2 separate regions of the Homo sapiens genome follow, and region 2 is linked to region 1. Evidence: fine-mapped expression QTL. Tissue or cell type: adrenal gland. Region 1 holds a variant in brackets; the other region holds the start of a gene. All regions are shown on one strand. Distances are from middle to middle.

Region 1 (15,637 bases):
TCAAGCTCACATATCCAGTATGTAACAAATCTAGGACTTTAGCCCAGCTTTCCTTAGCCCCAGCCTGGTGTTGTCTTCTGCTCTACCATGCTTAGTATCTGCTATAATGACACCCTAGGTCCTTTCACATGTTGGGCTTTCCTGCAGGAGTCTGGCCTATTAGACCATAAACTCATAAAAAGCAGAACTATGACCTTGATAACTTTGTATATTCAAGAACAGCAGGAACTGTGTCTTTCAGCGAGTAGATGCTTAATAAGGATTTATTGAAAGGAAAGGAGATAGAGCAAGAGGAAGTATGTGAGGGGAAGAGGAGATGGGAGCATGAAATTGGGGCAGAGGAGAGAGACTCTTGTGCTCCTTCTTGACATGGGGCACAAGAGTGACTTGCTTTGGAGGAGGCTATGGCTAGAGTGTCACAGGCAAAAGCCCAGGAGGCCCACGGGTGAGCAGAAAATTACAGAACTTAAAAAATCATTTTTCTTGGAAATAATGTGTGAGACAGGGAAATCTAGTGAAAAAATATTTTTCAGTGCATGTATCCCTAAAAGGGAGGTTTTCTTTTTAAAAATTTTTTTTAAGACAGTCTCGCTGTGTCACCCAGGCTGGAGTGCAGTGGCGTGATCTCAGCTCACTACAACCTCCTCCTCCCAGGTTCAAGCGATTCTCATGCCTTAGCCTCCCGAGTAGCTGGGACTACAGGTGCATGCCACCACGCCTGGCTAATTTTTTTGTATTTTTAGTATAGAAAGGGTTTCATCATGCTCTCCAGGTTGGTCTTGAACTCCTGACCTCTTGTGATCTGCCTGCCTCAGCTTCCCAAAGTGTTGGGATTACAGGCATGAGCCACCGTGCTGGGCCTGTGTTTTGTTTTTAATATGAGATTAGTTATTATAACTTTGTAGAAAGAACATTGGGTGGATTTTCTCAGCAGAGTTAAGTCTACAACTCAGATACTCTAGGGCAGTAGTTTTTGAAGTACACAAGGCACTAGGACTTCTAAGGCACTCTCTTAGAAGCCTCCTCAAAAAGAAGGAGATGATAATAATTGATTACTACTTATTGAATTCTAATTAGACCATGTGCCAAGCCCCATGCTAAGTCTTGGTCTGTGTTATCTCATTTAATCCTCTTTGATATGAGTCCTGTTATCATTCCCACTTCACAGATTACGAAGCGGACACTCAAAGAGGTCCCCCAGCTAGTAAGTGGCCAAAGTGGGATTCATTTGACTGTTTGACTCCAGAGCTCATGCATTCATGGGCATGGCTACAGGTACCCTTCTCTTCACTCCTTCCCCAAGCATGCCCCCAATTCACCAGAATTGAAACTCAAGATTTTGACACCATAGAGAGCAAACTGGGGAACAGGAACTACACTGTTGGTTAGGACTTGGGAGAAGATAAATTAAAAAGTCTGACACTTTGATCACGTTCTGTAAAAGTCTTGGGGCTTTGCTTTCCCACTGTGAAGGGCATTTTGAAATACATCTTAATGAATGCATTCTGCTCTCTTGGTACACCAGGGGGAGCATTTAGTACAGGAATGGGAATACGGTGGCTCCAGGAAGTGACTATTCCTGCTCTTTGTAGGGAAGAACACTTTTTCTTTCTCTCTTTCTCACTGAAAAACACATTTTTCTGTTTGAACAGTTTGAAAGCAAGTTGCAGATATCATGAGACTTCACCTATAAATACTTCAGAAGGATTTCCTAAGAAAGATATTCTTCTGCTTTATGATGATATTATTATCACGTCTAAGAAACTTAACATTGATGCAACAATGATGTCTAATATGTGGTCTGTATTCAAACTTCTCCAGATATCCCCAAGATGTTCTTTATTGCTTTTTTTGGTTTCAATCCAAAATAAATTTTGTGTTCTCTTAATATTAGATCACAGTTATTCTTCTGGAATATTTTGCTGTGAAATGCTTATACTTTTTACCGTCTATTGAATAACTCATAAAGTTGATTTGCCATGCTTTATTAAGTTTCTCTTTGATTGATATTGTTTATTCCTATTATAAGTATACCATGATGTTAAGTGGGACTTCCCATTTCTCAGTTTTGACTCAGGCACCAATTAAATAGATATCAGAATCCAAAGTGAGTGTGAGATTGACGTGGTATACAGAATTCATCAAGTGTCACAGGTTAGGTTCCTCGTAAAAGGCTCTTGATGGACATTTGTATGGAGGCAGTTTATTGGGGGAGTGTTTGGGGCTCAGCAGCTAAGGGGGAAGAAAGGAAGCAGGATGAGACACAGGGAGGTGTTGAACTGTGATGCAATCCCTACTCAGCCAATCCCCAGAGACCTCTAGAGCTGGGATGGTGATATTTGGTTGTGTCCCCACCCAAATCTCATCTTGAATTGTAGCTGCCATAATTCCTACTTGTCGTGGGAGGGACCTGGTGGGAGGTAATTGAATCATGGGGGCATGTCTTTCCTGTGCTGTTCTCATGATAGTGAATACATCTCACGAGATCTGATGGTTTTATAAAGGGGACTCCCCCGCACATGCTGTCTTGCCTGCCGCCATGTTAAGACGTGACTTTGCTTTTCCTTCACCTTCCACCATGATTGTGAGGCCTCCCTAGCCATGTGGAACTGTGAATCCATTAAACCTCTTTCCTTTATAAATTATCCTGTCTCAGGTATGTGTTTATTAGCAGTGTGAGAACAGACTAATAGAGATGGTCTTGCAGAGTTGTTCCCTTCTGGAGCAAGGAGGCTGGGTCTTTATACCCCTAAAGGGACCAGTCAATGGATGCAGGTTGCCCCTGGGACAGAGATGTGATCACGGTAACTCCCTTCAGCTTAGAGCAATTTTCAGAGAGACTTGGAATAGAAATGAGGGCCTGAAGGGGATATTTGGGCAGGGACCACAGCATCCATAACAGCAGGGAAATGCTCGTGAACATGTTGCCTAACCCTGGATGCCCTCAGACTGAATACACGAGAGGTCAGAGTGGCAGCGGCATGAGGAGGAGGAAGGGTAGAGAGACGCCACTGGAGAGAGCATTGCCAGGCTGTGCCTCCACTCTCCCTCCCCAGGGGTAAGGGCCAGGAGTGCTACCACCTTCACCTCAAGGGTACGATGGGGGCTCTGATAGGACCACATATTTAACTTACATATTTCCTATGGTTGAGAAATATGTAACTGGCTAGAGTGGCCTGTGGCAGCAGGACACAGAGGGCTGGGTTTGGTCCTGTGTTCCCAGGGTTTGTTGGGGCAAGAGATGAGAGAGTGTTTCCTGGGACTTAAATGTGGGCCCTTGGCTGGGCACTGTGGCTCACGCCTGTAATCTCAGCACTTTGGGAGGCGGATCACTTGAGGTCAGGAGTTCGAGACCAGCCTGGCCAACATAGTGAAACCCTGTCTCTACTAAAAATATAAAAATTAGCTGGGTGTGGTATCATGCGCCTGTAATCCTAGCTACTTGGAAGGCTGAGGCACGAGAATCACTTGAACCTGGGAGATGGAGGTTGCAGTGAGCCCAGATCACACCACTGCACTCCTGCCTGGGCAACAGAGACAGATTCTGTCTCAGGAAAAAAAAGTGTGGGCCCCAGGGGAGAGACGATACTGAGCCAGAGCCATTTTTAAAACCCTTTTATTTTGAACGAATTTAAGACTCAGAAGAAATTGCAAAAATAAAAGGGAGTTCCATGTACCCTTCATCTGGCTTTCCCCATTGATAATGTAGAACCACCGTACATTTTCAAAACTAGGAAATTGACATTGACATTGACACAATACTGTGAACTAAACTATAGACCTTGATTTTCATGAATTTTGACATGCTCTTGTGTGTGCATGTGTATAAACAGTACTGTGAAATCTTGTCACACATATAGATATGTGTAATCACTACCAAAACAAGGACACCGTCACCAGCTTCCGTCACTGCAGAGAAACTCCCTCATACTAAAGCTTTGTAGTCAGGCCCTCCTGCCAACCCTAACCCCTGGCGACCACTCATCTGTTCTCTATCACCAGAATTTTGTCATTTTAAGAGTGTTCTGTAAATGGAATTGTATAGTACGTACCCTTTTGAGATTGCTTTTTTCACTCAGCATAACATCTTTTTTTTTTTTTTTTTTTTTTTTTGAGACAGAGTCTTGCTCTGTCACTCAGGCTGGAGTGCAGTGGCACGATCTTGGCTCACTGCAAACTTTGCCTCCTGGGTTCAAGCAATTCTTGTGCCTCAGCTTCCTGAGTAGCTGGGATTACAGGCGCCCGCCACCATGCCAGGCTAATTTTTGTGTTTTCAGTAGAGATGGGGTTTCACCATGTTGCCCAGGCTGGTCTCGGAACTCCAGGGCTCAAGCGATCCACCCACCTCGGCCTCCCAAAGTGTTGGGATTACAGGTGTGAGCCACTGCACCCAGCCAGCATGACATCTTTGAGTTCCATCCATATTGTTGCCTGTGTCAGTAGTTCATTCTTTCTCTATAACTTAGAGTTGTATTCTGTTGTATACCCATTCACAGTTTGTCATTCTGCATGAAAGTCATTTTAAATCCTGTCCAAGAGGACCCTCTGGGAGGGTGAGAGGAAGCCAAAGAGTGAAGTCTGAGTGGACGGGATTGCCAGAGAACCAGGGGCTGAGGGCAATAGCAGCTGGAATGGAATGCTTCTCCCTTGTTCTGAGAATTACAACTGGAGAGGTTCCCAGAGATGGGAATCACCAAAGATCCCAAGAAAAGTGCCCCAAGTGAGAGGCAGCTTTATATAGCTGCAAAGCCCAGTGAGCAGGAAGTCAGCTTACAACTGTGCCACTCAGAAGCCAATTAAAGTAGCTCCAGACATAACCACTTACCTCTTTGCCGTCTGTCCATTTGGGCATGGGATCCAAGCCAGTAGCTAGTGAGTGGAGGAGGATTATGGCGCATGGTGCAAGACAGAAGAAAATGACTACTTTCCCCTCACCTCCCTGGGAACTGCCAGCTCTCGCAAAGAAGGGGAAGAAATCTTTTGAGTGAAAATGGAATTGTTGATGAATAGAATGAACTGACTCACTGAATTACTCTAGTAAGACCATGTTTGTGACTTGATGTGACCATCAGACTGTCATTACTTGAAAGTGACACAGCAGGCAGGAGCCTGCAATTGTTTTCATCTGGAGTGAGGACAAGATTCTTTTCTCCTGCTGCCCCTCCTCCCTTTTCCCCCCTGGCAAACTGTATACATGGATGTGCAAATATCTCTTTGAGATCTTGTTTTCAGTTCTTTTGGATATATACCAAGGAATGGGATTGCTGGTCATATAATTGCTGGTAATTCTAGTTTTAATTTTTTGAGGAACCTCCATTCTGTTTTCCATGGGCGATACCATTTTACAGTAAAGGGATGATGGAAGAAAAACAATAAAGTGGCATTTTGATTATGTTACCCTATCAGTTACATAAATAACTTGGAAATAAACATCTTCTATATATAAGTTCTTTTTTTAATAGTATAATTTTCCTTAGAGCAAATTCCTGAGCATGGTATTAATAGGTCAAAGGACCAGGAAATGTTTGTGGTTCTTGAAACATATTCCAAATTGCTTTTCTTTCTTTCTTTTTCCTTTTTTTTTTTTCTCAGTCTGTTGTCCAGGCTGGAGTGCAGTTGCGTGATCCCGGCTCACTGCAAGCTCCGCCTCCTGGGTTCAAGTGATCCTCAGCCTCCCTCAGCTGGAACTACAGGCATGCACCACCATGCCCGGCTAATTTTTGTATTTTTAGTGAGATGGGGTTCCGCCATGTTGGTGAAGCTAGTGTTGAACTCCTGGCCTCAAGTGATCGACCTGCCTTGGCCTCCTAAACTGCTGGGATTACAGGAATGAGCCACTGCGCCCGGCCGCCAAATTGCTTTTCTAAATGTTTGTGCCAACTTACATTCCCACCAGATATTGTATGAAGGTTTTATCACATATTCAATGGCATGAGATAGTGTTATGAGATTGTTAATGTAATGGGATTTAAGTACCATTTTGATGTTTGAAATAATTTTTAAAGTGTTTTCATAAAATAATTCTTGCATTAAGTGTTTTATCAATGTCTTTAAGCTTGGCTTTAGTATCTTGAGTATAGAATGTAGCTGAGGGTCTGATTTCATAAATTAATTACTGGCCATTCATATCCAGGTTCCAGAGGGTTCCTTGGAGCAGTTAGAACCAGACCAAATCCTGTAGAATTGTGAGCAAGGAAGAAAGGGAGAGGCAAGGGCCAGAGGAGCAGTGAATATGAGAGACAGGTTCAAGGTATCTATTTTTATTTTATTTGTTTATTTAGAGATGGAGTTTTGCTCTTGTTGCCCAGGCTGAAGTGCAATGGCACGGTCTCGGCTCACTGCAACCTCTGCCTCCCGGGTTCAAGCGATTCTCCTGCCTCAGCCTCCCAAGTAGCTAGGGTCACAGGCGCCAGCCACCACTCCCCGCTAATTTTGTATTTTTAGTAGAGACAGGGTTTGCCATGTTGGTCAGGCTGGTCTCGAACTCCTGACCTCAAGTGATCCACCCGCCTTCACCTCCCAAAGTGCTGGAGGTTCAGGATCTCTAAATGAGAGGTAAACAAACTGAAGCAGGAGGCCAGATCAAGGAGATGCCCACCATGATGTCAGGAGGTGAGTTGGGAAAGGGCCTCAGGAGATAGGGATTCTTGCGTGGCCCCCAAAGGGGGTAGTGGGGTAGGGAATAAGCTTCCTCCTACCCTAAGCACCAATAAATTCAAAACTTTATTTATGTATTTATCTATTTATGGTAAAAATATAACATAAAACTCACTATCTTAAAGTGTACAGTAGTGTTAAGTATATTTGCATCATCATGCCACAGATCTCCAGAAGTTTTCATCTTGCAAATGGAAACTCTGTACTCATCAAACAACTCCCCATTTTCCTCTCTCCATATCCCCCCACTAACTGCCATTCTACTTTCTGTTTCTATCAGTTTAACTACTTTAGATACCTCGTATACGTGGAATCATAAAGCATTTATCTGCATTATTTTACTTAGCTTAATGTCCTCCAGTTTCATTCATGTTATAGTGTATGATAGGATTTTCTTATTTTGAAGGACTGAATAATATTCCATTGTATGTATATATCACATTTGCTTTATCATTTTTTCCATCACTGAACATTTAGGTTCCATCCACCTCTTGGCTATTGTGAATAATACTGCAAGCGACATAGATGTGCAAATATCTCTGTGAGATCTTGTTTTCAGTTCTTTTGGATATATATCAAGGAATGGGATTGCTGGTCATATAGTTGCTGGTAATTCTATTTTTAATTTTTTGAGGAACCTCCATTCTGTTTTCCATGGGCTCTACCATTTTACATTCCACAAACAGTGCACAAGTGTTTTAATTTCTTTATGTCTTTACCAGCAAGCACTTGTTATACAGTCTCCCTTCTTTCTTTTCATAGTGGGCATCCTAATGGGAGTGAGGTGATATCTCCTTGTGGTTTTCAGTTGCATTTTTCTGATGATTAGTAATGCGAACATCTTTTCATGTGCTTGTTGGCCATTTGTATATCACTTTTGGAGACATGTCTGTTCAAGTACTTTGCCCGTTTTTTAATTGGGTTATTTGATTTTTGTTGTTGAGTTGAGGGAATTCTTTATATATTCTAGATATTAGTCCCTTCTCAGATGTATTATATGAGCATATTTTCTTCAATTCCATAAGTTGCCTTTTCACTATATTGATTGTATCTTTTGGTGCACAAAAGTTTTTAAGTTTGATATAATTCCATTTGTCTACTTTTGCTTTTTGTTGCCTATGCATTTAGTGTCATACCAAGAAATCATTGGAAATATGTTTTTTCATTTGTTTAAGCCTGTAGGAGGAAATACGGTTTGAGTGAACTTTAACATCTTGGAAAAGTAAGCCTTGGTCAAGCTTACAGACAAGAGACTAGGCTGGTTATTCATCCTGTGAAACAGCCCTACAAATTTACCTACACCATGGAATCCAAGATCCCACTGATAATGTGAACTTACTCCTTTTTGTTTGTCTTCTCCCTTCTAATGTTAATTTTTTTAACTGCAGGAAAAATAACAAAATAACAGAATTCTTCTTTTATAAGATAGATTTGGGAGCATGTACTGATCTTTTGAGTGAGGTGGAGAGGTCAAAATAAAAATACTAAAATGTGAATAAAACTTTGAGACTTAGATGGAGACCTAGTTAAACCTTTTCTTCAAATGCCATCAATGCCAAAGAGCAGCAGTTGTTTTACTAATTCATTCACCAAAAGTGATTATCAAACGTCTACTATGTTCTGGGCACTAACTAGCCAAGGCAATATAGGTGTGTATAAGAGGCAAGTCTCTGCTGTCTGTGAGTCTATGCAGAATCTCGTCTTCCGTTAGAAGCATCAACAAACATGTATTGCCTGCCCTCCCTCTGCTAGAAGTTTGGGGAGACATGTTATGGACTAAATGTTTGTGTCCCCCAAAATGTACATGTTGAAGCCTTAACGCCCAATGTGATGGTATTTGGAAGTGAGGCTTTTGGGAGGTAATTAGATATAAATGAGGTCATGAAGGTGTGGTCCCCATGATGGGATTAGTGGCCTTATAAGAAAAGAGACAAGAGAGGTTCTTCTCTTTTTCTGCCACATGAGGACACAGTAAGAAGGCAGCTATCTACAAGCCAAGAAGAGGGTCCTCACTAGGAACTGAAGCCTGCTGGACCTTGATTTTGAAATTTCCAGGCTTCAGAGCTGGGATTCCTGTGTTTAAGCCACCACCCAGTCTATGGTATTTTGTATGGCAGCCGAAACAGACTAATACAAGGCATAAGGGACAGTGAGATGCTGTTCATCCTCTCAAGGGTTCGTGAACTTGTTACCGTGGCCTCCGCAGTCCCTGTGTTCACTTATCTTTGCTAAGGGCAAATCACTGATGAGATGGACGCATTTTATAACTGGAGAATAAAAGGGATGAGGCCCTACAGGCTGAGGGTTACAACCAGGTGTCTGAAGGAGTCAGTGTCCCAAAGAGTGAGAATAGTGGAGTGTGTAAGTGGAGAATAACCAGGTAGGTGCTTAAAAGTGAACCTGTGTTGACTGTATTCACTTATTTCATAAGACAACTTTTGGAGGCCAGACACACCACCTTTAAAAAGTAATTGTATAAGTGTCCTAGTGCTGTGCATGAAGTCCCATAAACTGGGTGCTTTTTAAACACCCAGTTGTTTTTACAATAGAAGTTTATTTTCCCACAGTTCTGGAGGCTGGAAGTCCAAAATCAAGGTGTCATCAAGCCTATGCTTCATTTGAAAACTAGAGGGGAGAATCCTTTCTTGCCTCTTTTAGCTTCTGGTGTTTGGTGGTAATCCTTGGTGTTTCTTGGCTTGTAGATGCTTCACTCCCATCCCTGCCTCCAAAGTCATATCGTCATCCTCTCCCTGTGTGTTTCTCCTT[CCTTTTTT/C]CTTTTTTTTTTTTCTTTTTTTGAGACAGGATAGCACGCTGTTGCTCAGGCTGGAGTGCAGTGGCATGATCATAGCTCACTGCAACCTTGACTTCCTGGGCTCAGGTGATCCTCCTGCCTCAGCCTCCCAAGTAGCTGGGACTACAGGCATGCACCACCATGCCTGGCAAATTAAAAAAAGATTTTTTTTTTTTGGTAGAGACGGGGTCTTGTTATGTTGCCCAGGCTGGTCTCGAACTGCTGGGCTCAATCAGTCCTCCTGCCTTGGCCTCCCAAAGTGCTGAGATTACTGGTGTGAGCCACCATGCCTTGCCTCTGCTTCCTCTTATAAGGACATCAGTCATACCAGGTTAAAGGCTCACTCTACTCCACTGTGACCTCATCTCAAATAAACTAATTACATCTGCAACAACATGATTTCCAAGTAAGGTCACATTCTGTGGTACTGGGTATTAGGACTTTGTTGTAGTCAGGGTTCTCCAGAGAAACAGAGCCAATAGGATGGTTCCGTCTCTATAGATAGAAATAAATTTATTATAAGGAGTTGGCTCACATGATTATGGAGGCTGGAAAGTCCCAAGATCTGCATAGTGAATCAACAAGCTGGAGACCCAGTGGTTTAGTTCCAGGCTATGTCCAAAGACCTGAGATCCAGGAGAGCTAATGGTATAGTTTCAGTCTGAAGTCCAGCAGGCTTGAGACCCAGGGAGAGCTGATGTTTCAGTTCAAGTACAAAGACAGGAAAAAATTAATGTCCCAGCTCAAAGGCAGTCAAGGAGAAACTCTCTCTTACTCAAGGGAGAATGAGCTTTTTATTCTATTTAGACCTTCAATGATTGGATGAGGGCCACCCACATTAGGGAGGGTAATCTGGTTTACTCTGTCTACCAATATAAGTGTTACTCTCATCCAAAAACACTCTCACACAAACCCCCAGGATAATGTTTGATTAAATATCTGGGCACCCCATGACCCAGTTAAGTTGACACGTAAAATTAACCATCACACTTTAAAATATCTTTTTGGGAAGCACAATTCAACCCATAAAAGTAATAATCATGCCTAGAGAACTTTTTTAGTTGAAGAGATAGAAAGTTTAATTCAAATCTGTACCTGTTGCTTTGTACTGTTATTTGATAGGGGTCTTACCCCACTCCTATCCATCAAGGCTGGCAGAGGCTATTTTCCAGGATTTTAGGGTTGCTGGCAGCTGGGCAGTGACTCAGGAGAGTTGTGAGTGGGGACAGAAAGGAAGGAAGTATGCCAAACAGTGCTAAAAAATATCCAAAGCTAAGAAATGTGTAATTAGCCCTGACCTCCTTTGCCCTTCCTCCTTACTAAAGCAGAGTGGGTGAAATGGCTCATGGGTTATTAATTGCCCTCTGCTGGTCACTTTACAGGCATGGCTTCCCATTTGCTTACTTTATTTTCTAGGGATGTCAGCAAATTACCACAAACTTGATGACTTAAAGCAACAGTAATATATTGTCTCATAGTTCTGGAAGTTAGAAGTCTAAAATCAAGGTGTCACAGGGTCCATGCTCCATCTGAAGTTGTCCAGGGACTGAAGTGTCCAATCCTTCCTTGCCTATCCCTAGTTTCTGGTGGTTCCTGGCAATCCTGGTGTTCCTTGGCTTGCAGCTGGCTCCCCACAATATCTGCCTCCATTTTACATGGCCTTCCCTCTGTTTCTCTGTGTGCCCTCTCTTATAAAAACAGCAGTCATTGGATTTAAGGTCCACCATAATCCAGCATGACTTTATTTTAAGTTAATTACATTTGCAGAAACCCTGTTTCCAAACATGTCACATTCTAAAGTTCTGGATAGACATGCATTTTGAGGGAGATGCTATTCAACCCCCTATACTAAAACTCTTTTTCTGTGGAAGAGAAAGAGGCAGGGAGAGTAACTTGTCCAGATCACTGTTAAGTGGTTGAGCTGAGCTTTCATGTGTACTCATTAGCCAAAGTGTCTTCCTTCTTCCCCTCTGCCCTCTTCCCTCTTTCCTTTCATCGCCTATTTTCTTATCCAAGGATGCCCTGGATATTAGTTTACCTTCATTTGAATGGAGAAAAATGCCCATTGTTAACTGTTAACTGTTGGGGTGAGGGGATGGGAAGGTGTTCAGTGGAAGGTCTCTCAATCTCCTTGAGAGTTAGTTTACTTTTTTTGCAAAAATGGAGAAAATGAAACTTGTCTCATTTGGTGGTTGCATGTATTATTAAATCACATACAACCGATCACAAAATCAATGTGTAAGAAAGTGTCTGGGAAAATCTTCCAAGGCATACAGCCCTGAGGGACTTTTGTAGAAAATCATTTAGAAAGTAAGGCATCCATTACTCACCTAGGGTATTAATTAATTTGTATTCTTGAAATTCTTTTTTTTTTTTTTTGAGATGGAGTCTTGCTCTGTTGCTTAGGCTGGAGTGCAGTGGCGCGATCTTGGCTCACTGCAACTTCCGTGCCCTGGGCTCAACCAATTCTCCTGCCTCAGCCTCCCAAGTAACTGGGACTACAGGCACATGCCACCACACCTGGCTAATTTTTGTATTTTTAGTAGAGACGGTTTCACCATGTTGCCTAGGCTGGTCTCGAACTCCTGACCTCAACTGATCTGGCCTTGGCTTCCCAACGTGCTGGGATTATAGGCATGAGCCACCATGCCCGGCCTGTATTTTTGAATTTCTACATTGTTGACATGCCTTGAAGTCTTAGACGATGAGCAAGAAACAGAAATCATGTAGCACATATATTCAACATTCCCACGTAATTTTAGGTTTCTATTTGGTCTCTTTCAAGCGGTAAGTAATTTACTTTGATCTTCTCTGCTAGGTTATAACAAAAGTTGACATTGTAGCTCTGCCACTCACTAGAAATATCATCTTGTTTATGTTATTTAACTTTATGACCTCTAATTGTGAAGGTTAAAGGAAAGAGCACATATAAAAGCTCCTGGTACATTATGGTTAGTCAGGAAGTAAAAGTTTTTTTTTTAAATTGCATTGTTATTATTATTACTGTTATTATTAATATCATTGGTATGCAAGACACTGAGTTATACATATTTGACTTGTGAACATATTTGTTATTTTAAAAATTGAAATAATTTGTCTTAAAAAAGTTACAAAAATAGTACAGACAATTCCCATATATTTCGTCACCCAGCTTCCCCTACTGTTTAACATCTTACATAAGCACAGTATGATGATCAACACTGGGAAATTAACATTGCTACAATACTATTAAGTAAACTATAGATTTGACTTGAATTTGCAGGTTTTCCCATTAACGGTTTTTTCTGATCCAGGATCCAAACCTTGATCTCCAATTGAACTTAGTTATGAGAAGGAGACAAACTTAGTCTTTTATAACTTAGTTTTTCCTTGTCTTTCATGATTTTGACACTTCTGAGGAAAGCTGGTCAGTAACCTTGTAGAATGCCCTCCAATTTGGCTTTGTCTGTATTTTCTCTGATTAAATTGAGATAATACAATTTTGGCAAGAATACCTCAGAAGTAATGTTGTGTCCTTTCTCATACACCATATCCAGAAGTACACAATGCTAGTATATATTATTACTGGTGAAATTAACATTGATCTCTGGGTTAAAGTGGTGTCTTCCAGGTTTCTCCACTAAATTACCATTTTTCCCTCAGTGACTAACAGATATCTTGGGGAAATACTTTAAAACTACGCAAATATTGCCAGGCGTGGTGGCGTATGCCTGTAATCCTAGCACTGTGGGAGGCCAAGGTGGGCGGATCACTTGAGGTCAGGAGTTCGAGACCAGCCTGGCCAACATGGTGAAACCTTGTCTCTACCAAAAAGTGGTGGTGTGCGCCTATAATCCCAGCTACTTGGGAGGCTGAGGCAGGAGAATAGCTTGAACCCAGGAGGAGGAGGTTGCAGTGAGCCGAGATCCTGCCATTGCACTCTAGCCTGGGGGATAAGAGCAAAACTCTGTCTCAAAACAAAAACAAAAACAAAACTATGCAAATATCCTGTTTCTTGTACCTTCACCCACTAGTTTTAGCATCTATGGATGATTCTTGCCTGCCACAATTATTACTATGGCATTTGCCTATTAGTGATTTTCTGTTTCCTTCATTTCTTCTCTATTAATAGGAATTCTTCTCTAAGAGAGAGTTATTCTCCTCCCTCATTTATTTTTTTATATCAATATGGGCTGATGAATATTTATTTTATTTTATGGGTTATAATCGAACACTGTCATTATTTATTTTGTTGCTCCAGTGGTTCCAGCTCTGGGCATTAGGAGCTTAAACAGGTTGGCTCCTGTATCCTTTCAACATGCCTCATTATTTTTAGTGCTTTCTTGCTTTTTGATGCTTACTTTTTAATCTAGGCTCATCTTGTACTTTCTTTGCCCCAACCATGGAATTGATCTTTTCTCCAAAGAACTCTGATTCCTTTTATTGGAAAATGGACTTAGGAACCAAGATCTTGGCATTGAGTAGTCTCATTGCTACTGGGGTTTCATTGCTTCTGCGTCCTCTCAGTGGACAGAGTTTGGAAATATATGCAGGTATGCTAACACACATACATATGTTTATATTTGTAAATTATAAAATTGTATAATTTTAAATTTCTGTATTATAAAATTATACATATGTTATAAATCTATGTTTATTTCAACATATATCTGTATAACTATTAAGGACCACAATGAATACATTCAAAGGTAAATGTGTGAATATCTCTAAGGCATACTTCTACTTATCTCCTAATAATAAAGAGAGTAGGTCCATTACACTATTGCAGAGTCATTAGTACTTGTTTACTTTCAAGTTTTATGTTGTAATTCAGATAGCTGAGGTTGTCAGAGAAGAGACCTAGCCTTATGTAATTCTGGAACCAGAAAAAGAAATCATGGAACTATCCAATTCATGTTTCCTAAACTGGTGTTCCATGGAATACTATTTTAGGAGTTGTTAATAGCATTATCCTGATCAAAGGGTTTTGCGGTTCCATAAGTTTGGGAAACAGCATTGTAGATCCTCCACACTTGTGTGACACTGCCAATGGATTATTTTATTTATATGTTTATTTATTTTTAGGGATGGGGTCTTGCCAGGTTGCCCAGGCTGGCCTCAAACTCCTGGGCCCAAGCAGTCCTCCCACTTCAGTCTCCTGAGTTGCGAGATTACAGGTGTGAGACACCATGCCCAGCATGCCTATGGATTATTAAAGGAGTTTTTAAAAATTTGTTTTCCAGGCTGGGTGCAGTGGCTCACAGTGGTAATCCCAGCACTTTGGGAGGCTGAGGCAGGTGGATCGTTTCAGTCCAGGAGTTTGAGACCAGCCTGGGCAACATGGCAAAAACCTGTCTCTAAAAAAATACAAAAGAAGTTAGCTGTGTCCACTCCTGTAGTCTCAGCTACTCAGGAGGCTGAGGTGGGAGGATTGCTTGAGTCTTGGAGGGAGGGGTTGTAGCAAGCTGAGATCACAGCACTGCATTCCAGCCTGGGCAACAGAGTGAGACCCTGTCTCAAAAAATTTTTTTTTTTTTTTTTTTTTTTACAGAGTAATTCTGTGTTCAAAACAAAATACTTGTCTAATAATTTTATGGAGGCAGAAGATAGAAAAAAAGAAAAAGTAAAATCAAATCTGTATGCATTTTCTGTTGCACAAATTTATTTAAGGTTAAATGTTGGTATGTGCAATAACCTGAAAAGTTTCAAGTACTATAATTGTGATCAGATTTTTTGTTTGGATAGGCTGCCATAAGCTTGTCTTCAAGTGGCTTTTAAAACCTAAATTGCATTAGCTTTACAAGGGGCAAATATATTCTTTAGAAAAAAGGTGTTCTCTATTCCTGCCATTGAAATATTGCTTCACAAAACTTATGGCACAACTAACAAAAAAGGTAAAAAATCCTATTTCAAAGTAGTCATTTTGTGGACAAAGGTAGAAACCTATAATCTTTCCTCCACCACAGCATTTCATATTTAAACCTTCTATTTTTAACCTGATGGTGGGATTCATGGCTAATGCTTATGAGATCTGTGTCTAGACAGTTGAGAAAAACAGGAAATGAGTTACATTGTCCTAGTAACCTTTTGTTTTCTAGCTCCAAGCTGTGCTTGCTTTAAAAAAATATTCCTTCTCTCCTGAGAATTTCAGGGAATTTAAGGAACTATAATAATCCAAGGCCTCTTCAGGGAGCAGAGATAGCTGTTTTG
Region 2 (15,637 bases), 77 kb before region 1:
GATCCATCTCTGACAAGGCAAGAATTTTCCCTTCACTCTGGTCACAGGTAGAAGTCCAGACTCTCCCCTAGCAATGTCTTCAGAATGGAGGGGCTCCCTTTGCAGTGCAGTGCCTCCCCAACCCAGAGGCAAGAAAGCAAGAGTATGTAATAAGCACCCATGTGCCAGGCCCATGCAAGGCATTTTCAAGAGAACACTGTCTTTAGCAATAACTATGATACATCCACAGACACATGAACTAATTGGGTGGGTAAGGGAACTTCAACCATGTGAGATCTCCTAAAATCTTACTTTTCTTGCTCACAAAATTGGAACGATACAAAGATTAGCGAAACAATTTTTTAAAATCTTACTTTCTAAGTTTTATCATTTCAAATCCAAGTAGATAATATGTTCTTGTTTTGATTGACAGAGCATTAATTCTAACAACTCTACCCACAAACATTTTATTTCTTGGCGCTCAGAAGCCCACTAAGGCTCAGACATTTTTCTTAAACTGATTTCATGTCCCATTCAAGTGTTGTCTACAACCTGCATAACCAGTACTTTGTACAACTTGTTTATATTTTAATTGTATATAAACGTTTTTAAAGAAATATGTAATATTTTTATTTAGGTACCTCCAAACTTGAATTCACCTGTGTAAAACATTTTAAAAGGATACAATTCTCTTTTGAGTACCATTACAGCTATACAGGTTTCCACTGGTTCTATTTTTCTACTGTTATTGATGAGCATGCTAACACTGACTGTCTTACATATAGTAGACATTTCAAATAAATGGCTTGTATAGAAAAAAATTTCACATCACCATAAAATGCAGTGGGTTAAGTGGACTGAAAATGCAAATTAAAAGAGAGAAAAAAAAGAATCAAGGTAAACTTTGCTAAGAGTTTGCTCATGTTATTATTTTTAAATGTTTCAAAACATATCAACTGGTTTTTAGACTGCAGTGGATACAGGTAAAGTCTGACATAATAGTTTTATTCTTTTTAATGTCAACATCAAAAGATGACAGAAATTACATCCTTTGAAAGAAATAAATGAGGGGGAAGTTGAGATGATAACTTAAAACTGTATGAGAGAATAAAGAACTAAAAAACAATTTAGGAACTCTTAGGAGAAAACAGCATTGGATTTGGCAATGATTTCTTGGATGACACCAAAAGCACAGACAACAAAATAAAAATATGTAAGTTAGACCTCATCAAAATGAGTACCTTTTATGCATAAAGAACACTATCAACAGAGTGAAAAGGCAACCTACAGAATACGAAAAAAATCTGCAAATCATATACTGATAAGGTATATAAGGTTTTATATATACATACACACACACACATATATACACGCATACATATATATATCTCCAGAATATTTAAAGAACTCCTTTGCAAAACAAGCAAACCAATTAAAAAATAAGCAAAAGATGTGAATAGAGATTTCTCCAAAGATAGACAAATAGCCAATAAACACATGAAAAGATGCTCAACATCACTAGTCATTAGAGAAACGCAAATCAAAACCACAGAGATAACACTTCACACACATTAGGATGGCTACTCACAAAAAAAAAAAAAAAGGAGAAAATAGCAATTGTTGGTGAGGATGTAGAGAAACTGGAATCCTTGTGTGTTGCTGGTGGTAACATAAAATAGTAAGGCAATTCCTCAAAAAGTTAAACACAAAATTTCTATATGATCCAGCAATTCCACTTTTGGGTATACACTCAAAGAAGCGAATGCAGGGACTTGCACAAATATTTGTACTCATGTTCACAGCAGCATTATTCAATTCCCAAAAGGGGAAGCAACCCAAGTGTCCACTGACAGATGAACGGACAAACAAAACATGGTACATACAATGGAATATTATTCCTTCTTGTTTAAAAAAGGAAATTTTAACACATGCTACAATATGGATGAACTCTGAAGATATGCTAAGTGAAATAAGCAAGTCATAAAAGACAAATATGATTAGTCTAGGAATATGAGATTCAGAGAACAGTCACATTCAGAGACAGAAAGTAGAACAGTGGTTGCCAGGGACTAGGAGGAGAGAGGAACTGGGAGTAAGTGTTTAATGGGTACAGAGTTTCAATTCTGGAAGATGAAAAAGTTCTGGAGATGAATGGTGATGATGGTTGCAGAACAATGTGAATGTACTTAATGAACTGTAAGCTTAAAAACGGTTAAAACGGTCAATTTTATGTTATGTATATTTTGGTACATTAAAAAAGAAAATAAATGCTACCATATTCCTGAGGATAAAAAAAGATTTTGTTTCCTTACAAAACAAGAAAAGGGGTGGATGGGGACAATACTAGGAAAAAACATTTCCTAAGAAACTTGGAAGACAATCTTATAAGTGGTATAAGAGAATCTTTGATGTGCATAGTGAACGGCTTGTCATTCTCTCCAAATAAGTACTAGGCAGCAAGAAAGACTCAACAATGTGGGCAAAAAAAAAAAAAAATTATGTGGGAGTCCTCTATATAGAGTATACACTAAAAAATTTTTAAATGCATCTTTCAAAAACAGTTCTAACAAAAGCAATATAAAAATAAAGGCAATACATGCCCATTATTACTGGAAAAATGAAAATGTCACCCTTAATTTCAGCCACTCACAGACAACCTCTTTTAATCTCTTGGTGCAAAAACCATTTTTTTCCTATGCAAACATATTTACATGATTTTAAAACTGAGATAATACTATATGTTTTATAAGTTTTTTCTAGTAATATCAATATTTTTTCATGTCATTAAATATTACTCTAAAAATTTAATGAATGAATAGTATTTCAGCCATTACATGAATCTATTTAACAAATTGCTGAATGTATTATATTTAGGTTGCCTGCAATTTTTTCTGATGTTATAAATATCTCTAGATGAATTATCTTGTGTATATCTTCTTTCCTAAGGAAGACTAGCACAGGTATTAAACCGAAGTCATCTAATTCCCAAGAGGTAAGTTCAACACTGTTAACAGTAATTAACATTGGATGACAGAGATGGGGACTTTCACTTTCTATTTTTCACATTTTCACATGTATTACCAGAAAAAAATTCCTAAAAACTAAAAAACAAAGAGAAAACAAACTTAGTCTGAAATTTTAACCTAGAGATGTAATATTCTCATTTATTCTTTGGCTAAAATCTACTTAAATATTGAGAGCACTTATAGTTCTTTAAAAGTGAAGTTTTAAGAGAGGAAATGTTAGTATTTTGTTAAATTTTAAGTTTCTCACAACCTTGCAGAATCAGTAAGTTAACATAGAGAAAAAGCAGCAATAAAATAACAAAAAAGTTTTCCTAAAGTATACACAGTTGCATAATAAAAATATTCTATGTTATTTTTCACAGAAGACCAAGCTTATTCAAGCTTTAAATTCATTTTTTAAAAAGCATGTTTGGGGGGGAGGTCAGTTGTTTGAGTCAATTCAAATATCAACAAATGAGGTTGAAATAGGATGTACTCAACACAAATTTAGGGCTCCCTGAAAACTTAAACAACAGTATATTCTAATACATGATATACATGTTATATCACTATAGTTGTGATATCCTTCCTTAGTTTTGTCTTTAAACATGAGTTTAAACCACTTCACCATCTACTCGGTAAACTCCAACTTAGTTTCTACCTCCACAGCTCTTTCAGTACATTCACAACTGTCTCCCAATAGCTACATCCAATAGCCTTTTCTCTACCTCACTGAATTCTACAGAACTGATCACTACCTTCTTTATTTATTTTTAGAGATAGGATCTTGCTCCTTCACCCAGGCTGGAGTACAGTGGCACAATCATGGCTCACTGCAGCCTCAACTTCCTGAGCTCAAGAGATCCTCCTGCCTCAGCCTCCCCGGTAGTAGCTGGGGCTACAGGCATGTGCCACCACGCCTGGCTACTGATTATGTATTTTATCTTATTTTATTTTATTATTTTGAGACGGAGTCTTGCTCTGTCGCCCAGGCTGGGGTGCAGTGAGTGTAGCAGCACGATCTCAGCTCACTGCAACCTCTGCCTCCTGGGTTCAAGCGATTCTCTCTCTCAGCCTCCTGAGTAGCTGGGACTAGAGGCAGGCACCACCACACCTAGCTGGTTTTTGTAGAGACAGGGTTTCACCACATTGCCCAGGCTGGTCTTGAACTCCTCGGCTCAAGTTATCCACCTGCCTCGGCCTCCTAAACTGCTGGGATTACAGGTGTGAGCCACCATGCCCAGCCAATTTTTATTTTTTATTTTAGAGATGGTGGGGGCGGGGGGGTGGTCTCACTATGTTGCTCAGGCTGGTCTCGAACTTCTGGTTTCAGGTGATCCTCTCACCTTGGCCTCCCAAAGTGCTGGGATTAGAAGTGTGAGCCACTGTGCCTGGCCAGTACTTTCTTAAAATGCTTCGGTCCCTTGGTTTACTTAATACTCTTAGTTCCATGATTCAACTTCTCACCTTTAAAATACAGGCATTGCTTCAGACCTCCTTAATTCTTTTTGTGCTTTGCTGTTTTCTTCTCTCTCTTTTTTTTTTTTGACACAGAGTCTCGCCCTGTCGCCCACGCTGAAGTGCAGTGGCGCGATCTTGGCTCACTGCAAGCTCCGCCTCCTGGGTTCACGCCATTCTCCTGCCACGGCCTCTAAAGTAGCTGGGATTACAGGAGCCTGCTACCACGCCCGGCTAATTTTTTTTTTTTTTTTGTATTTTTAGTAGAAATGTGGTTTCACCGTGTTAGCCAGGATGGTCTCGATCTCCTGACCTCCTGATCCGCCCGCCTTGGCCTCCCAAAGTGCTGGGATTACAGGTGTGAGCCACCGTGCCCGGCCTGTGCTTTGCTGTTTTCTATTCATCCTCAAGGACAAGCAGTCCCAACCTCTTAGCAATTCTGGCATAAAACTCCCAATGGTCGGCCGGGCGTGGTGGCTCACATCTGTAATCCCAGCACTTTGGGAGGCCAAGGCGGGCGGATCACGAAGTCGGGAGATTGAGACCATCCTGGCTATCACGGTGAAAACCCAGTCTCTACTAAAAATACAAAAACTTAGCCGGGCGTGGTGGCGGGCGCCTGTAGTCCCAGCTACTCAGGAGGCTGAGGCAGGAGAATGGCGTGAACCCAGAAGGAGGAGCTTGCAGTGAGCCCAGATCGCGCCACTGCACTTCAGCCTGGGCGACAGAGCAAGGCTCCGTCTCAAAAACAAAACAAAACAAAACTCCCAATGGTCTACTGCTCACTTCTTTAGCTGGAAACAACGTCTTCCCTCCCTGTGTTCAAACAACTCTCAGATCCTGTGCTGTATTATTGGACATTTTTCTCCATTCCTACTAATACCACCTTAACTTAAACTCTAAGGATCTAGGAATCTAGAATACTTAGTATATGGATACTAGATACTAAGAATCTAGTAATGAGGATAATAATAGTTTATAAACAGGAGAAATATATGTGTCTTATCAAGTACTATGCCTGGTACACAGCAACTGCTATATAAGTGGTAGCTATTACTATTATTTTATATATATATATATATATATATATTTTTTTTTTTTTAGACAGAGTCTTGCTCTCTTGCCCAGGCTGGAGTGCAATGGCGCAATCTCGGCTCACTGCAACCTCTGCCTCCAGGGTTCAAGCAATTCTCCTGCCTCAGCCTCCCCGGCACCTTGGATTACAGGTGCACACTGCCACATCCGGCTAATTTTTGTATTTTTAGTAGAGACGGGATTTCACCATGTTGGCTAGGCTGGTCTTGAACTTCTGATCTCCGGTGATATGCCTGCCTCGGCCTCCCAAACAAAGTGCTAGGATTACAGGCATGAGCCACTGCACCCAGACTACCATTATAATCTTTTAACTGGTCTTCTTAGCTCTAGGTTTTTGTTAACTATAATCCATCCGAAACACTGTCTCATCAGATCCCTGTTCTAGCTCTTCACTGTCTCCCACATAAAGCTGTAACCTCTAAACCTAAAATCAAGGGCCCTTTCTTGCTTATGACTGAATACAGAACTGCCATGTCACCCAATTCCAGGGAACACCATTCACTGCCACACCCAGAAGCTCCCTATCTATGCTTTGTGATACTTCATTAAGCTATATACTTTTCATGTTTCTGTACTGTGTTATGCTTTAAGTTTTTAAAATCTCCTGTATGTTACACATATTGGTGTTGAGTTTTGAGTATCTTTCCAGACTTTCAAATAAACATACAATTTTTAAAATAGTACCTTCTACATACTGCAGAATGTTCTATTTTACCTAACACACAGAAAAGTAAAAATGTAGGTAAACAACCCAAAAGTAGGCCAGGCGCAGTGGCTCACGCCTGTAATCCCAGACTTTGGGAGGCCAAGGCAGGTGGATCACCTGAGGTCAGGAGTTTGATACCCCGTCTCTACTAAAAATACAAAAATTAGCTGGGCATGGTGGCAGGCGCCTGTAATTGGAAGGCGCTTACAGCTACTCCGGAGGCTGAGGCAGGAGAATTGCTTGAATCCACGAGGCAGAGGTTGCAGTGAGCAGAGATTGCGCCACTGCATTCTAGCCTGGGCGACAAAAGCAAAACACAGTCTCAAAAGAAAAAAAAAACCCAAAAGTAATGTACGATCATCATCAATTTAAAAAAAACACCCTACTATCCATCCTTAAGTGACTCTTCAACATGAGAAACAACCCTAAATTTACAGAAACCAAAGAACCTCAGACCTTAGAAAACAAAGAAAGTACAGAAATAGACAATGGCTACTCTGATTCTGGAAGAAAAAGAAACTACAGAAAAGATATCCATAGTCATAAAGTTGGTAGGATGAAAATAGAAGTTTTAAAAAAACAACAAAAAACAAACTTAGACCACCACCACCACAATATTCAGGGAACCCATACAAGTCAGGAAAAAACAAAAACACAAATCTATAAGCCCAGCTGAATGAGAACATATTCAAAATATAAAAATACAATGTAGTTAATAAATAGGTGACTAAAAGTAACTTCAGAACTTGAAGATAAGATCAGCCTGATCAGAGGTAATGAGAAGTTTTGAAAAAAAAAAAAAAAAAAAAAAAAAAGGTCAGCCTGAGATTAGACTAGGAAAAATTCAAGTTAATGAATTAAATGAATAAATGTAACCACCCATAAAAGCAGCCTAGCCTAAGAAATGCTCTGTCAATAAATATGTGGCTGAGGAAACTAAGAAATATCCAAATATAATCAGGGTGATCAGGGAGTGAAGTCTCTGAAATGCATGATTGATGTAAAACAGCAAGGTGTAATCCAACCAAATGTATTGAATGTAAAGCCCCCAAATCAGAAAATATTCCAATTACAGAGGCATGTTTCATTTTTGGTACTGATGGGCTTGTCAGTATGAATACATTACCCCTAAAGACCACCGATTTATTTTAATCCAATCCCATGCTCATTATGTAACACTGTGATTATAATTTGGTCTACACAGACACCTTGATGTATAAAAGGGAGGAGAACTTTGTCTCAAAAAGGTATAATGCCTGCTGGGAACTGTGGTGGGGGTTGAGGGGGATCCTTTCTACCCTACAACATCCAGCAGAGTGCATTCTAATTGCTCAACCACCATATACCACAAATACGGGATTTATGGCAAATAGTCTCTGTATATTGCTGTTAGGTCTCCTCTGCTAGACTTGTATCTCTTTAGAGTAAGAACAATCAACAACAAATATTTAATATACACTTACTTCCTGCTAGGTTCTGTTCTAAGTGCTGGGATAACATTGCCAAAAAAAAAGTCAAAATCCAAGTCCCCGTGCAGTTACATTCTGATTGGGGAAGAGAGAAAAATACTTAAAAATAGAAAAGTACAGAAAATGTTGGAAGGTGACAAGTGCTAGGAGAGGCATGTCAGGAGAGTGGTTTGTAATTTTAAATATGGTGCTTATGGTAAACATCATTGCAAAGGTGAAATTTTAGCAAAGACTTGAGGTAGACAGACTCCTAAATTTGAATCATAGTCACACAGCTTACTATAAGGTGAATTTGGGCAATTTATTTAAGTCTCTGTGCATCAGTTTTCTCATAAAAAAAAAATCTTACCTACCTCATAAGGTTGTAAGGACTGAGTTATTTATTTGTACAATTTCTGGACCACACTAAAGTACTATAATTCCTGAGGTTTTGTTTTTTAGTTTAAAATAATGTAAAAAAAAAAAAAAGTTAAAAGAATGGGTCATGCAGATATCAAGGGGAAGAGTATTTCCAGCAGAGGTATACCAAATGGAAAGGCCCTGGTATTAAAGAAGCAGCTATGCCAGTGTGGCTGGAATAGAGTGCGTTTTGTAAAGGGGTAGAAAAAGATGTCATTATAAAGGATGCAGGGATGCTTAGGGCTGCTTCCAAACTTACAGACTTTTACTTAGATAGGGAGTCTCAAGAGGGTTTTAAGTGATCAACTGTTTTGACTTTTTAAAAGATTCACTGCATTTGCTGGGCGCGGTGGCTCACGCCTCTAATCCCAGCACTTTGGGAGGCCGAGGAGGGCGGATCATGAAGTCAGGAGATCGAGACCACCCTGGCCAACACGGTGAAACCTTGTCTCTACTGAAAATACAAAAAATTAGCCAGGCGTGTTGGCGGGTGCCTGTAGTCCCAGCTACTCCGGGAGGCTGAAGCAGGAGAATGGCGTGAACCCGGGAGGTGGAGCTTGCAGTGAGCCGAGATTGGGCCACTGCACTCCAGCCTGGGTGACAGAGCGAAACTCCATCTCAAAAAAAAAAAAAAAAAGATTCACTGCATTAAGAACTGACTATTGGTGGGGCGTGGTGGTTCACACCTTTAATCCCAGCAATTTGGGAAGCTGAAACTGAAGGATTGCTTGAGTCCAGGAGTTCGAGACCAGCCTGAGCAACATAGTGAGACTCCATTGCTACAAAAAACTTAAAAATGAGCTGGGTGTGGTGGCGAGCCCCTGTAGTTCCAGCTACTTAGAAGGCTGAGGTGGAGAATCACTTGATCCTGGGAGGTTGAGGCTGCAGTGAGCCACGTTGGTGCCACTGCACTCTAACCTGGGTGACAGAGCAAGACTCTGTCTCAAAAATAAATAAATGCATAAATAAAGAGAACTGACTGTTGAGGGAAGGTGGGGCATAATATATATATCAAACAGTGGAAAACGGGAAGGAGGCCAATCAAGAATCTATTATAATCCAGGAAAGATGGTCAGGCGCGGTGGTTCATGCCTGTAATCCCAGCACTTCGGGAGGCTGAGGTGGGCCGATCACCTGAGACCGGGAGTTTGAGATCAGACTGGCCAAAACAGTGAAACACCGTCTCCACCAAAAACACAAAAATTAGGTAGGCGTGGTGGCGCATGCCTGTAATCCCAGCTACTTGGAAGGCTGAGGCAGGAGAGTCACTTGAACCCGGGAGGCGGAAACTGCAGCAAGCCGAGATCACGTCACTGCACTCCAGCCTGGGTGACAGAGCAAGATTCTGTCTCAAAATAATAAATAAATAAATAATCCAGGAAAGAGATTATGGCTTGAACCAGCATGGCAACACTGGAGGACATATAAAGTGGTCAGACTTGGAATATATTTTGAAAGTGGAGCCAACAGAATTTGCTAATGCACTGGATGTGAGGAGTCAACAACAACCTAAGGTTTTTTTTCCTGAGGAACTGAAAAAAAAAAACGGAGTGGCCATTAACTAAAACTGACGATGGTCTTAATAGCTGACAATGACTGAATCCTAACCATATGCTAACTGTTCAATTAATCTCCTTACATACATGATCACATTTAATCCTCACTACCAATGTGGTGGGTATCATCCCATTTAACAAGTGTAGAAACCTGATGATTATTGGTAAACCTGAGAAGCTGAAACTGAAATTCATAATTAACAGTTTTCTTAAGAGTCTATGTATTTGGCCAAGCAGGGTGGCTCAATTCTGTAATCCCAGCATTTTGGGAGGCTGAGGCAAGTGGATCACCTGAGGTCGGAGTTCGAGACCAGCCTGGCCAACATACAGAAACCCTGTCTCTACTAAAAATACAAAAATTAGCCCAGCGTGGTGGTGTATGTCTGTAATCCCAGCTACTTGGGAGGCTGAGGCAGGAGAACTGCTTGAACCCGGGAGGTGGAGGTTGAGGTTGCGGTGAGCCGAGATCACACCAGTGCACTCCAGCCTGGATGAGAGAGTGAGACTCTGTCTCGAAGAAAAAAAAAAGAGCCTATGTATTTAACCAGTATTCAATATATCAGTACGTATCATTATGTTCACAGGATCTAGTGTTACCCTGGACATAAATAATCAATCAGTATTGAAACACATTTTCTGAACACAGGTTAAGTCAAGTAACCAATTCCAGTGCAGAAGTGTTTGGCCTCTCCAGGTCTCTGCCAATTCCTGGCAGATGACTGAGAAACAAATCTTTAAAGTCAGGAAATTACTTGTCTTTTCAATTCAGAATCACAATTTCAGAGACTGAAGGGAGTGTAGTTTTTAACCCATTCCCCTCAGTAGAGTAGCAACCAGAATGGGATGCCCACAAAAGATACTGGCAACTAATTTTATATAGTTATCTAAATACAAGATCTTAATAGAAGACTTAATACAAGACCCTGAAATCGTCTGCTGAACTGAAGAGGATTACATTGTCACTTCCACCACACATTTCCCCTGAGCCTCTCATTCTCATTCCCAAGTTCCCAACCTTCTCTCAGGTCCTATTTTTCCTACTCCATGCCTACCCTCACTCACTCCAACACCTTCAGTCCAGCTATATATTACTTGCTGCCTTAACTAAATTTACTAGCGAGCTTCCCCGACTTCTTCAACCTTCTGTGAATGCTGAAACCCCTCCACCTAGGCCTCTTTCAGCAGCTGGGGTGGGGAGGTGGATGGGAGGGGAGTAACTGCTCAGCTTTAACTCTGCCCTGCAAAAACCGTCACTGCACTTCAGACCTAGAAGCAGCACTTCTTTCAAGAGGACCCTCCTTCCTTCCAAACTTCCCCTATAGACACTGCTTGTAACTGCAGCATGACGGCATAGAAAGGGAACGATTTAGGAGGCAGGCAATCTGAGTTCCAATTTTAGATCTACCCCTTACTGTTTACCTTTTTGAATCCGTTTCTTCATCTGTCAAAGAGATAGCACAACTACGCATTCTCAAAGGGTTATGACGAGGCTTGGAAGCGGGGGGCGTACATGAAATGTTGGTCTTCATCCCTCCACATTATGCAACCTGGTATTATTCACTGCGCTGTTATTACGGAACTCCTCTGGATCGTTAATGGAGGTCAGAGAACCTGAATTACAACCTGTCTGTCCCTGTGCCCCCTCCCCCCCAACGTTTATGGCGCAGACAGAAAGCAGTCAGGGGATGCGTGTTGCCTCCAGGTTGATGCGAACCTAGGGCAGGAGCCTGGGCGATCGATCGGCCAGGGAGTGGGGGGTCGTGCGGGCGGCCGAACAGCCGCGGCTTGGCCCCAGACCGCACTCCGCTGTGGCGGGCTTCGATTTCCTCTTGCGTAAAAGTAGGTGGTGACCAAATGCTTAGTCCTCTCCCGGCCAGCCTCAGCTCAGCGATCCGACCCGCACCTCCGATCCCGAGAGCTTCCATTTTACTCGTCCTCGACCACACTTCTCCCCCGACAACTGTCACCCTGACCGGCGCCGCCCACCCCCAGGCCCCTCCGAGCGCCGGGCTGCCGGCAGTCCCCCCGGGAACCGCCCTGGGAGCCCGCCTCAGGCCCGTACTCACGCCCGCTTTGGCTGTGGTCGCCGCGGGTTTCTTCTGCGCCGCGCCGGCCGAGCGGAGCCGCCTCCGGCCGATGTGCTCCAGACTGAGGAAGTCACTGGACAGGTCCAAGGAGCCCGTGGCCGAGGCCGCGGAGTGGTTGTGCAGCTCCAAGCTGCTGCGGAGAACCACCATCTTCTCTCCCTACTGGCCTCGGCGTGCGCGACCGGAGAGAGATCCAGCTCCAGGCGCTCGCAGCTCTGGCTCTTCCGCGCTCCGAATTCTGGCGCCACAAGCTCCGCGCCAGCGGCCGCAGCGCGCGCGCCCAGAATCCCTCCGCCGTCTGTCCCGCCCACGCCACCACCGTAGAACAGCAGGCTCGAAACTCTCCTCCCATTTGTAGAGCGAAGGAGGCCGGGCCAACGTGGAGAGGAACACAGGCCGACAGTATAGAGGACCTGAGCGGAGAGTCCTGGGGAAAACGCTGACTTCTTTTTCTTCACATAGTTCCGGCTCGCTGAGCTCGGCGGAAGGAGACGGTGGGAGCGGTGCGTAGCCCGTTTGGAATTTTGGCGCGGGACGGCGGCGGGGGAAGGGAGGCCTCTGCGCGCTCTGATTGGCTGGTGGGGTCCGGCGTCTCCTCCCCACCCCTGTTGACACCTGCTTGCTGCTTCCCGCCATCCAGGATTCAAATGCAAAATGCCCAGTCCTTGACTGGAGGGAAATAAAGCACTTGGCCTTTGACAGGTTTTGACTTTGAGCCTTAAGAACTTTTTTTTTTTTTAAATAATTGAGGGCTTGACGAAAACAAGTTAACCACCAAAAAGAAAGAAAACACAAGGAGCTAAAAGCGAGCCAGCAGAGTGCCATCGTTTAGTTAAGGACGCGGGTTCTGTACCCATCTTTGCCATTGATCATCCCACATAGAAGATCTCGAACAAATTATTCACCTCCCTGCATTCTAATTTCCTCACACGCTGAGGCAGGAGAATCGCTTGAAGCCGGGAGGCACAGGTTGCAGTGAGCCAAGATCGTGCCACTGCACTCCAGCCTGGGCAACAGAGCAAGACTCTGTCTCAAAAAAAAAAAAAAAAAAAAAAAAGAACCTGTTTCAAAAAAAAGAGCAGGACTCCCAGTTAAATGTGAAGTTCAGATAAAGAACAAATACTTTTTATACGTATCTCGGAATGTACATATAATCGGAAAGTAACTCCGATTGTAATACCTAAGGCCCTAAAGTACTATTATGATACCTTGGAGCCGTGCTTGCACATAATAAGTGCTCAATAAGCGTTCGCTATTATCACAGAATACAAGAAGATGGCTTCTCTAAGATGGCAGTTACTTGACTACTTTGAAATAGGTAACACGCTGAATGATCAGAATGTCCGAGGGCTCTTAGCGAAATAAACGAAAGCTATTTATTGATTTGGATAACTACAGTTCATTAATTTAATATTTGTTAAATACATATTGAGCCTCTATTATGTACCAGGCATTATTCTAAGCACTGGGGATGCAGCAGTGAATAAAAAGAACAAAAATGCCCTAATGGAACTTAAACTCTAGTGGAAGGTGAAAGACAATAAACTAAATGTAAAAGTTTTAAAGTGGCAAGCATTACAGAGAAATATAAAGTAGGGAAGGGGGAGGGAAGAGTGCAATTTAAAATAGGGTGATTAGGGAAGGTCTGGCTGAGAAGTCTGACAAAGGCCTAAAGGTTAGATGGTTCTGGAAGAAGAGAGAGGCGGGAAGCAGGAAGGGGAGAGTGGCGAGGCCAATGAGAACAGAGCCACTGGGAGCAGGTCCTACGGGACTCTGGGTCTTAGTTTGAAACTTTTGAGGGCTTTTATTATAGCCCCCAAATTCCCATCCAAACCCTGAGATGAAAAGACATCTCAGGGTTTTGAACAGAGGTTTGACTTATTCCGACTTTAAAAATAATCTGCGTGGCTGCTGAATGAAGAATGCAATGTCTGGGGACATATAAAAAGTATTTGTTGTTTATCTGAACTTCGCATTTAACTGGGAGTCCTGCTTTTTTTTTGAGAGAGGTTCTTGTTCTTTTTTTTTTTTTTTTTTTTTTGAGACAGAATCTTGCTCTGTTGCCCAGGCTGGAGTGCAGTGGCATGATCTCAGCTAACTGCAACCTCTGCCTCCCGGGTTCAAGCGATTGTCCTGCCTAAGCCTCCAGAGTAGCTGGTATTACAGGCGTGCACCACCATGCCCAGCTAATTTTTGTATTTTTAGTAGAGATGGGGTCTTACCATGCTGGCCAGGCTGGTCTCGAACTACTGACCTCAGGTGATCCACCTGCCTTGGCCTCCCAAAGTTCTAGGATTACAGGCGTGAGCTACCGTCCCCAGGAAGACAGATTATTGTTCTGTCACCCAGGCTGGAGTGCAGTGGCGCAGCCACGGTTCACTGCAGCTTTGACCTCCAGGGCTCAAGCAATCCTTCCACCTCAGCCTCCCTAGTAGCTGGGACCACAGGTGTGTGCCATCACACCTGGCTAATTTGTTTTTAGAGACGGGGTCTCACTCTGTTGCCCAGGCTGGTCTCAAACTCCTGGCCTCAAGCAATCCTCCCACCACAGCCTCCCAAAGCCTGGGATTACAGGTGTGAGCCACCATGCCCAAACAATTTTTCTGATTTTTCTTGCATGAATATGCTTCACTTTTACAATAGAAAAAAACTTTAAAATAATTGTTTAACCAACATAGGTGAAAAAGAAAGGAACAATATTTAAAGTAGTACAGTTTAAAAAATTTAAAAAGTAGCAGAGTTTACTATTACTTGGTTTTAAAATACTATTTATGGCTGGGCACGGTGGCTCACGCCTGTAATCCCCCCACTTTGGGAGGCCGAGGTGGGCAGATCACGAGGTCAAGAGATTGAGACCATCTTGGTCAACATGGTGAAACCCCGTCTCTACTGAAAATACAAAAAATTAGCTGGGCGTGGTGGTGCACGCCTGTAGCCCCAGCTACTCAGGAGGCTGAGGCAGGGGGATTGCTTGAACCTGGGAGGCAGAGGTTGCAGTGAGCCGAGATGGCACCACTGCACTCCAACCTGGCGACACAGCAAGACTCCGTCTCAAAAAAAAAAAAAACCACACGACTATATACTGTATATACCATCTCATTTGATTTGTTTATTCAGGAAATTTTAATTGAGCCCCCATCTTATTCTAAGCATAGTTAGAGGTGCAGGGAGTAAAGCAGTGAACCAGGAACCCTAGGTTCATGGAGCTTACATTCTAAGAGGTACTCAGTGGATAAACAAGGAAGTAAATAAACAAGGTAACTTCATTATAGCAAGTGGTATAAAGAAAATGAAACAGGGTCATGTGATACAGAGTGGTTGAAGGAAGAGGAGAGAAACATACAGTGGACTTGAAAGGTCAATCTGAGGCCAGGCGGGGCGGCTCACACCTGTAATCCCAGCACTTTGGGAGGCCGAGGTGGGTATCACCTGAGGTCGGGAGTTCTAGAGCAGCCTGACCAACATGGAGAAACCCCATCTCTACCAAAAATACAAAATTAGCTGGGCATGGTGGCGGGCACCTGTAATCCCAGCTACTCAGGAGGCTGAGGCAGAAGAATTTCTTGAACCTGGGAGGCAGAGGTTGCGGTGAGCCGAGATTACGCCATTGCACTCCAGCTTGGGCAACAAGAGCGAAACTCCATCTCAAAAAAAGAAGGAAAGAAAGAAAGGTCTGAGGCCAGGCATGTGTCACACCTGTAATCCCAGCACTTTGGGAGGGCGAGGCAGGCAGATTGCTTGAGGTCAGGAGTTCGAGACTAGCCTGGCCAACATGGCAAAACCTTGTCTCTACTAGAAATACAAAAATTAGCCAGGCATGGTGGCACACACTTGTAATCCCAGCTACTTGGGAGGCTGAGGCAGGAGAACTGCTTGAACCCGT

Direction of the effects. Alleles are on the strand shown, and positions count from the first base shown. SD is a standard deviation of normalised expression in the study named.
In carriers of allele CCTTTTTT in region 1, the expression in adrenal gland of the gene that starts at base 11,994 in region 2 tends to be lower than with C alone (moderate effect, 0.42 SD a copy in GTEx).

What was found. PIP is the estimated chance that this variant, and not a neighbour inherited with it, causes the effect.
Region 2: ATAD2 starts here. The variant in region 1 is the best candidate, but not a certain one, in a credible set for the expression of ATAD2 in adrenal gland (GTEx, PIP 0.53).

What each region holds. Positions count from the first base shown.
Region 1 is chr8:123,461,487-123,477,123 of GRCh38, forward strand. It overlaps a transcript of NTAQ1 not described here. Among named protein-coding and RNA genes, the nearest start is that of NTAQ1, 53 kb to the left of the region's middle. The variant CCTTTTTT/C (reference allele first, on the strand shown) is at 9,424.
Region 2 is chr8:123,384,454-123,400,090 of GRCh38, forward strand. ATAD2 (ATPase family AAA domain containing 2) reads right to left here and starts at 11,994. Exons shown (of 28, transcript NM_014109.4): 1 at 11,734-11,994. The coding sequence starts at 11,904. RefSeq lists enhancers at 8,566-9,066, 10,941-11,080, 11,851-11,900, 11,951-12,120, 12,136-12,430 and a silencer at 11,511-11,690.